Regions from separate parts of the Homo sapiens genome. Here all the other regions are linked to region 3. The links come from fine-mapping of genetic effects on gene expression. A gene starts in region 3. Each other region holds a variant in brackets. All regions are shown on one strand. Distances are from middle to middle.

Region 1 (2,763 bases), 55 kb after region 3:
CATAAATAATATATGCTTACTCTCTTAGTCCATTCAGGCTGCTAAAACAAAATACCTTACACTGGGCAATTTACAAATGACAGAAATGTATTGCTCACAATTCTGGAGGCTGGGAAGTCCAAGATCAAGGCACCAGCAGATTTGGTGTCTGGTGAGGGCCCATTCTTCGTAGATGGTGCCTTCTGTGTGTCCCCACATGGCAGCAGGGGCAAACAAACTCTCCTTGGTCTCTTTTATAAGAGCATTAATTCCCTTCATGAAGGTGAACGCCTCATGATTTAATCACTTCCCAAAGGCCCCACCTCTTAATACCATCACATTGGATATTAGGTTCTAATAACTGTAACCTCAAGTTTACAGTTTGCCAACCTAGGCCAAAGGTAGGGAAAGTATGGCCCATGAGCCAGATCAGGCCTGCTTTCCTCCCCTCTTATTTTTGTATAGCCTCTGAGCTAAGAATAGATTTTTATATTTTTCACTGATTATAAACAGTCAATGAAAAAAATACTTTGTAACACATGAAAATTATATGAAATTCAAATTTGAAAGCACAAACTGTTTTTCACCGTTGCACACTTCTGTGACCAGATGTGTAAAGGTTTTTCTCCACATACTAAGCAAATCTCCAGTGGACGCCAACTGAGTGTCTTATAATTCAATTTAATTCTGATACTATCCACCTGAAGATAGCATCAGACCCTACAGGTTAAGGGCCCAGTCCCACAAGACTGCCCGCACTCCAGATACCAATTAAAAGCCCCAGGTTGTAGGGCCAGGTGTGATGACGTACGCCTGTAATCCCAGCACTTTGGGAGGCCAAGGCAGGTGGATCACTTGATGTCAGGAATTCGAGACCAGCCTGGCTAACATGGTGAAATCCCGTCTCTACTAAAAATACAAAAAATTAGCTGGGCGTGGTGGCAAGCACCTGTCATCCCAGCTACTCAGGAGGCTGAGGCAGGAGAACTGCTTGAACCCGGGAGGTGGAGGTTGCGGTGAGCCAACATCACGCCATTGCACTCCAGCCTGGGGGACAAGAGTGAAACGCTGTCTCAAAACAAACAAACAAAAAAAAAAAACAAAGAAAGCCCCAGGTTGTTATTTGTGCTTCTGACTGGCTATAAATCAAGGTTCCCTCAACCACCTCTTCAGGTTTGATTAATTTGCTAGTGGCTCACAGAATCCAGGGAAACACTTTAGTTACATTTAATGGTTTATTATAAAGAATAGTACAGGCCAGGCATGGTGGCTCTTGCC[G/C]GTAATCCCAGTACTTTTGAGGTTGAGGTGGGCAGATCACTTGAGGTCAGGAGTTCAAGACCAGCCTGGACAACATAGTGAAAGCCTGTCTCTACGAAAAATACAAAAACTAGCTGGGTGTGGTGGCGCGTGCCTGTAATCCCAGCTACTCTGGAGGCTGAGGCAGAAGAATCGCTTGAACCTGGGAGGCAGAGGTTGCAGTGAGCCGAGATTGCACCACTGCACTCATGGTGCAGTGACAAAGTTAGAATCCATCTCAAAAATAAATAAATAAATAGTATAAAGGATGCAGATGAATAGCCAGATGGAAATGATGAATAGGGCAAGGTATGTGAAAAAGGGCACAGAGCTTCTATGCCCTCTTCGGATATACCACCTCCAGGCACCTCCATGAGTTCAGCTATCTAGAAGCTTTTCCAACTCAGTCCTTTTGGGTAATTATGGTCATTATGTAGACATGACTGATTATGGTTATAGTAATCGAAGGGGATTATTTCCAAGACTCCCACAGATACTAAAATCTAGGTCCTACAGTTGACCATTGGTGATCAGCTCAACCTTCAGCTTGTCTCCCCTCCCTAGAGATTAAGAAATGTGGCTAAAAGTTCCAACTCTCTAATCATGCCCTAGTTTTTCTGACCAATCCCCATCCTGAAGCTATTTAGGGGCCACCAGTCATCTCATTAGTGTACAAAAGATACTCTTACCACTCTAGAAATGCCTCATATTTTAGGAGCTGTATGATGGGAACCAGGGCAGAAATTAAATATAGATTTTTAAAAATTATACCACAGTATAAATAGTTTTATTGGAACACAGCTATGCTCATTCATTTACGTATTATGTGGATATTTTCATGCTACCATAGCAGAGCTGAATAATTGTATTGGAGAATGTGTGGCCCACAAAGCTTGACTATCTGGCCCTATACAGAAGAAGTTTGCTGATCTCTGACTTAGGTAACTGATGTACTTCTCTTATTGCTATTAAATGGGCAGGGTAAATATTAAAAATACCTATATTTTAGGGTGGGAGAAAAAAATTAACAGCTAAGGAATTTGGGGGCGTATTTAAGGCCATATTGGAAAGGTACATATGTTAATTATTCCCTCCATACAAAAATGACTTTGATATTCAGATTTTAATAATTATCAGATAGCTATAATATGTGGAGTGATGGGAAGTAACATTTTGGACAGATTGCAGTTAGGAAACAGACCCTGGTCAGAAGGTCTTAGACAAAAATCTTAGCATCAAGCTCAGATTATTCCTTCCTGCTTCATTTGTGTTCTCCTCACAATGCTTTCAGCTGCCTAGGAATAGCCAGGCAACCAGCTGCTACTTTGAGCACCCGGCTAAAATAAGCAGAGACAACTGGAAGGCTTGATGTGAAAAAGAGCTGTTGAAGTGTACACAAGCAAGCTGACTGCCTTATGACTAATACTTGACAGAACCCAGCAAGAGGATATGAGATTGCAGATGGATGACCTCAATCCTGAACAGAAA
Region 2 (2,763 bases), 40 kb after region 3:
AAAGTGGGTGGATCGCTTGAGTCCAGGAGTTCGAGACCAGCCTGGGCAACATGGCGAAACCCTACAAAAAATAGAAAAATTAGCCGGGCATGGTGGCGCGCGCCTGTAGTTCCCAGTACTCAAAGGGCTGAGGCAGGAGGATCACTTGAGCCTTGTGGGATTGTGTGTGTGGAAGTTGCAGTGAGCCAAGATTGGGCCACTGCACTCCAGCCTGGGTGACAAAGGAAGACCCTGTCTCAAAAATAAAATAAAATAGAAGGGCTGGAAATGGAAGAATAGCTGAAAAGCTGTCTTTTGTAGGAGGAAATTTGCATCTGCAGAGAAACAGCTGCATTGGTGCAGCCAAGCTTTCTCTGAAGCCATCTCGCATCTGATCTAGGAAGGATTAACTGAGAGTCTGATATTTTAAAGGTCTAAAAGAAATGTTACCATCTATTTTCTCTGATGGCTACTATCTGTGAAGTTTCATCTACAAGGCCACTTTTGCTAGCCACCCATAACCTGTCTTGCCACTATGACCTGATTTAACTACCACCTTAACGTGTTTTTGGTCGTGCTCTGAGCTCCCAGGCTTTGTGTAACTTCAAGATAGTATATAAGCTTCTGCATCCCCATTGGAGGGCTGGAGTAATCAATCTGTGATTTTTTTTCCCCCATGCATGCCAATACATTTGTATATACCTTTTCTCTTACTAATCTTCCTTTCATCAGTTGATTTTTCAGTGAAACTTCAGAGGGTAAAAGGGAAGTTTTCCCTTGGTCTCTACAAGATCATGTTAGCAACATGAGGTTGCAATCATTAGAGTCCTGGGATTCCTGCTAAATGTTATTTTACGTAGTCATCCTGCCTCCTTCAGGCAAAGGTATTTGAGGAGTGGCTATACCAAATGTTAGGCAGGCGGATCCTCTGAGGTCAGGAGTTTGAAACCAGCCTGGCCAACATGGTGAAACCCCGTCTCTACTGAAAGAATACAAAAATTAACCAGGTGTGGTGGCACGTGCCTGTAGTCCCAGCTACTTGGGAGGCTGAGGCGGGAGAATCGCTCGAACCTCGGAGGCGGAGGTTGCAGTGAGCCGAGATCTCGCCACTGCATTCCAGCCTGGGTAACAAGAGTGAAACTCTGTCTCAAAAATAAAAAAAAAAAAGAAAAGAAAAAGAAATTCTCATGGCATGATTCGAGAGATGAGTGATGTCAGACCTGAGGGCCAAATTGTAGACAACTGCTCCTTAAGAGTAAGGACTATCTCTTGCTTATCTTTGCATCTTCTGTAGCACCTAGTGTTTAGGACTCTATAAAATTGAGCCACCCAGATGACTGTATTCCAAAAACATGAGTATGTTTTCTCTCAATCTCTGTGTAT[G/T]GGATAACTGTTTTGTTTTGTTTTATTTGTTTGTTTCAGGCCCAATGTTTATTCCTACTTCTACTAAAAGTACTTTATTTTTCTTATTTTCCTGGGGGAACTATTCCCTCCCAGTATTCTACTACGTAGTTCAGATGGAGTTAAATCTACTCACTGGCTCCATAAGTAAGAGTGTTATCTAGGCCAGCCTTAGAGGAGTAACAAATTCTCCTGGCCACAATAATTGGTTCAGAGGTGTTTCCACAAACCAAGCTAAGACAGAGTGGTCAATCCTGGCACTAGGATAAACTTCTGTTGGTAAGGTATGGTAGCACATGCCTGCAATCCCAGTGCTTTGGGAGGCTGAGGCAGGAGGGTTGCTTGAGGCCAGGAGTTCAAAAACAGCCTGGACCACACAGCAAGACACCGTCTTTAAACACACACACACACACACACACACACACACCCTCCTTCTGTTGGACTTGCTGCACTAGAATCATAAGCTTGAAGTCACCACGTAGCTGCCTGGGAATGGAACTGCCACAGAAGAAAGACAGCCTAGGAATGGGTGAGAAAGACAACGTCTTGTTAACATCATTTGAGTGCCTGAATCAAACCTTTCCCAAAGCTCACTCCTTGAACTTTCAGGTATTGAGCCAATCAATCTTTTTCTAAATTTAAACTAATTTGAGTTGGCTTTCTCTCACTTACAACAGGAGTCCTGACATATATCTTTAATGTCACCCTCTACCACTTGATATTGTGAGTGAACAACTTTGGATCTTGGGCTTTCCTTAGCTCTCTATGCCCAATGCTAAATGTGATTTCACAATTATGGTTCAGGCCTGTTCAGACTTCTCTATGTGAGAGAGCTTGTGCATGGGTATGATTTAAATCTCTCTGTGTCAGAATAGCCTTGTACAGTTCTGTGCGTGAAATGTTTGCTCAGCTAGTCTAGATGAGGATATTCTAGATGTCATCCTTCCAAGGAGACTTCCCTGACTCCCACACTTTCATATATGTCAGATGAAAAGGATCTCTTATAGTTTCCTATGCTTACCCTTATTCTAACCGTCTTTACTCTATATTATACAGTTGGCTCTTGAACAATATGGGTTTGAACTGCATGGGTCCAATTATACATGGATTTTCTTCTCCTTCTGCCACCCTAGAGACAACAAGACCAACTTCTCCTCTTTCTCTTCCTCCTTAGCCTACTCAATGTGAAGACGTTGAGTATAAAGACTTTATGGTGATCCATTTCCAGTTAATGAATAGTAAATATATTTTTTCTTCCTTATGATTTTCATAAGAACATTTTGTTTTCTCTGGCTTATTTTATATTGTGAAAATATACTATATAATACATATAAAAAATTCATGTTAATTAACTTATGTTATCAGTAAGGTTTCTAGTCAACA
Region 3 (2,763 bases):
CTATTTCCACCTGGAGCCTCTTTGTCACATCCGGTGAATTCCCTCATCTACAGAAAGCGGCTGCTGAAAAAGACATCACCAGCTACAACGCCTTGAGTACTACAGCGCTCCCTGCGCAAAGTAAAACCCAAGTCTTCGGATCAAAACCAGCCGGGGCTGTGCATCCTTCACGATGCCGGACCTCCTGAAAAGCTCACCTGGGTACAGCTCAGGATCCTGGCCTCGGCTCGCTGGCCCTGACAGGCGGGTGGTCAGGGTGACACACGGTGGGAAGAACACACGCCCGCCTGCCTGCGAAGCCTCGCAAATAGCTGGGCTCCCTCGGCACCTTCTGCCGCCAGGTCTCCGCCTCCCAACCTCCCTCTGGGCGTACCGAGCCCGTTGTCGCCACGTTTCCCTCGCCCGGGAGGCAACGCGGCACCCACCCCGCAGCATCCTCGCTTCCGGGGCCTCGGGCAAGGGTCTCCAGTCCCAGCCCACCCACCCTGCCCGCCTCGCGCCGCGCTGGCCCTCCAGCCTGCGGCCACATTCAAGGCCGAGCGCAGTCTGGGCTGGAAACCCGCCGCCCGGGGCGCAGGCAGCCCAGCTGGGCCCCGCCTCACCCCGACGAGCTGCTCACGACCTCCAAAGGGAAGAAAGCGACGCTCTGAGAACTCCGAGAGGCCGCCGGCCAAGCGCCGACTCGGGGGGCGGGGGAACGGAAACCGACGTCTCCCCTTCGACCTCCCGGGAAACCCTTCTCCGTTTACTCTCCATTCCGCGACCGCCAATAAAGAACAGCATACATGGTTAGCAGAAATAAATGAATTGCACTCTCTAGGCTCTTACCTCTGGATGGCTACGTCCCTGAAAAATGTTTTAATTAGCTAACGGAGGACGGGGGAGGAGCTTTCTTGGTCGGTAAATAAGAGTGCCTTCTCCGTCGTCTCGGATCTCCGAAGCAAGCAGTCAAAGCGGCCACTGCCTTGCCTGCTGGAAATTCTCGAAAATTTTTCTCCCGCAGTTGACCAGATGGAGAGGGAGAAGTCTGTTCCCGCTGACTGACAGCAGATCCGGCCAGTCCGCACTCGGCGAGACGGCTGGCCGGCCGCCCGGGCCCTCGATCGCAGCCAGTCACAGATGCCGATGGGAACGAGCCTCCCCGCGGCTGCTATTTGACTTCGCAGGCTTCCAGCTGCGCGGCGGAGCGACGTCACCCTGTGCCAGTGGTGGCTCGCGGCGGCGCCCCGCCCTCCCGAGGTTAGCTCCCCAGCCAAAGAGGGGGCGCGCTTGCGCGGTGGGTGGGGCCGCGAGACTTGGTACCTAGCCAGCGGGCGGAGCGCGGAGGGGGTTTCGCTTCGGGCTAAGGGACTGTAGTTGTGACAGCCAGGAAACCGAGAACGGAATGCCAATACTGCTTAGGCTTAGAGTTTGAAAGGCATCTGATTTCACTGCCATGTCTTTGAACAGCAGTGCACAGTGCAGTCTTCTTCGTGGCTGAACAGGTATCTTGTGATCTTTAGGGAATGTCTATTAATTCATTAAACAAGTATTTCTGTGTTTATTGAAGGACGTCTTGTATGCTATACATTTGCTAGGCACTGGGGATACGCCCCTAACACAGCTAGACACGATAGCTGCCCTCATAGAATTTTCAGTCTAACAAAGAAGAGGGAGAAAACCAACAAGTAAGCAAGCACATAGAATAGTAATTAATCATGTCAAGGAAAGAAATAGGCATGGTGTGGACACTGGAGGATAACTTCAGATAAGATTGTTATATGAGAACTTTATAAGATGGCATTTAAACCATCAGTCATTCAGCCATGGAACCAATAAAATGATGAATTGTTTTGGGCAGAGGGGACAGCAGACAAAGGTCTCTCGGTGAGACAGCCCGGCGTTTTGGAAGAACAGAAAGAAAGCCAAAGTGTCTCCAGCATATTGAGGGAGGGAAAGAACAGCATGATGTGAGAGAGATGAGGCAGACAGGGGCTTGGAGTTGGCATTACATTTTAAATTTAATGGGCTTCTATTGAGGCATTCGAAAAAAAGAAGTGAAAGGGTCTGGGTTTAGACTTTACATCACTTTGGTTAGTGTGCAAAGAACAGTTAAAATAAGCTATTGGGAAACTGATTAGGAGATGATGACAGATGAAATTTAAGGTGGAAGATGACTTTGATTAAACTATGACAATATCACTGAAGGGAGAGAAGAGCAGAGAGATTAGAGATTTTAAAGATAAATAATTAACTTGATTTGGCATTTTAGTTATTCTAGGCCAGGGACAACTGTTTTGAATCCAGTGCATTTAATAACCAGGTTAGAGAGTGACTCTCATATTGACGGCTCACAAATTATAGTAATAACCTTGAGTAATATTATGTTGAGTTGATGTCTTTTCATAGACTTCCTGGATTTTTTTTTCTTTTGTCTTTCTTTCTTTTTTTTTTTTTTTTTTTTTTTTTTTTGAGACAGGGTTTTACTCCTGCCCAGGCTGGAGTGCAGTGGCGCTATCTGAGCTCACTGAAACCTCTGCTTCCCAGGCTCAAGTGATCCTCCCACTTCAGCCTCCCAAGTAGCTGTGACTACAGGCACGCTCAACCATACACAGCTAATGTTTATATTTTTTGTAGAGATGGGGCTTCCCCATGTTGCCCAGGCTGGTCTTGAACTCCTGAACTCAAGCAATCCACCCACCTCAGCCTCCCAAAGTGCTGGGATTACAGGCATGAGCCACTGTACCTGGCGTGGAATTTAAAAAAATAATAATTTTATTGAAA

Evidence for each region. PIP is the estimated chance that this variant, and not a neighbour inherited with it, causes the effect. A credible set is the group of variants that fine-mapping cannot tell apart.
Region 1: its variant is the best candidate, but not a certain one, in a credible set for the expression of PPM1K-DT in sun-exposed skin (GTEx, PIP 0.89).
Region 2: its variant is the best candidate, but not a certain one, in a credible set for the expression of PPM1K-DT in prostate (GTEx, PIP 0.84).

What each region holds. Positions count from the first base shown.
Region 1 is chr4:88,338,737-88,341,499 of GRCh38, forward strand. It overlaps PPM1K-DT (PPM1K divergent transcript), which reads left to right. Exons shown (of 5, transcript NR_134238.1): 4 at 2,126-2,216; 5 at 2,567-2,763. Among named protein-coding and RNA genes, the nearest start is that of HERC6, 39 kb to the right of the region's middle. The variant G/C (reference allele first, on the strand shown) is at 1,258.
Region 2 is chr4:88,323,700-88,326,462 of GRCh38, forward strand. The region is part of intron 3 of PPM1K-DT (PPM1K divergent transcript); the gene reads left to right. Among named protein-coding and RNA genes, the nearest start is that of PPM1K-DT, 40 kb to the left of the region's middle. The variant G/T (reference allele first, on the strand shown) is at 1,363.
Region 3 is chr4:88,283,578-88,286,340 of GRCh38, forward strand. It overlaps PPM1K-DT (PPM1K divergent transcript), which reads left to right and starts at 1,353. Exons shown (of 5, transcript NR_134238.1): 1 at 1,353-1,484. PPM1K (protein phosphatase, Mg2+/Mn2+ dependent 1K) reads right to left here and starts at 984. Exons shown (of 7, transcript NM_152542.5): 1 at 829-984. RefSeq lists enhancers at 767-826, 867-956, 869-1,392 and a silencer at 1,127-1,346.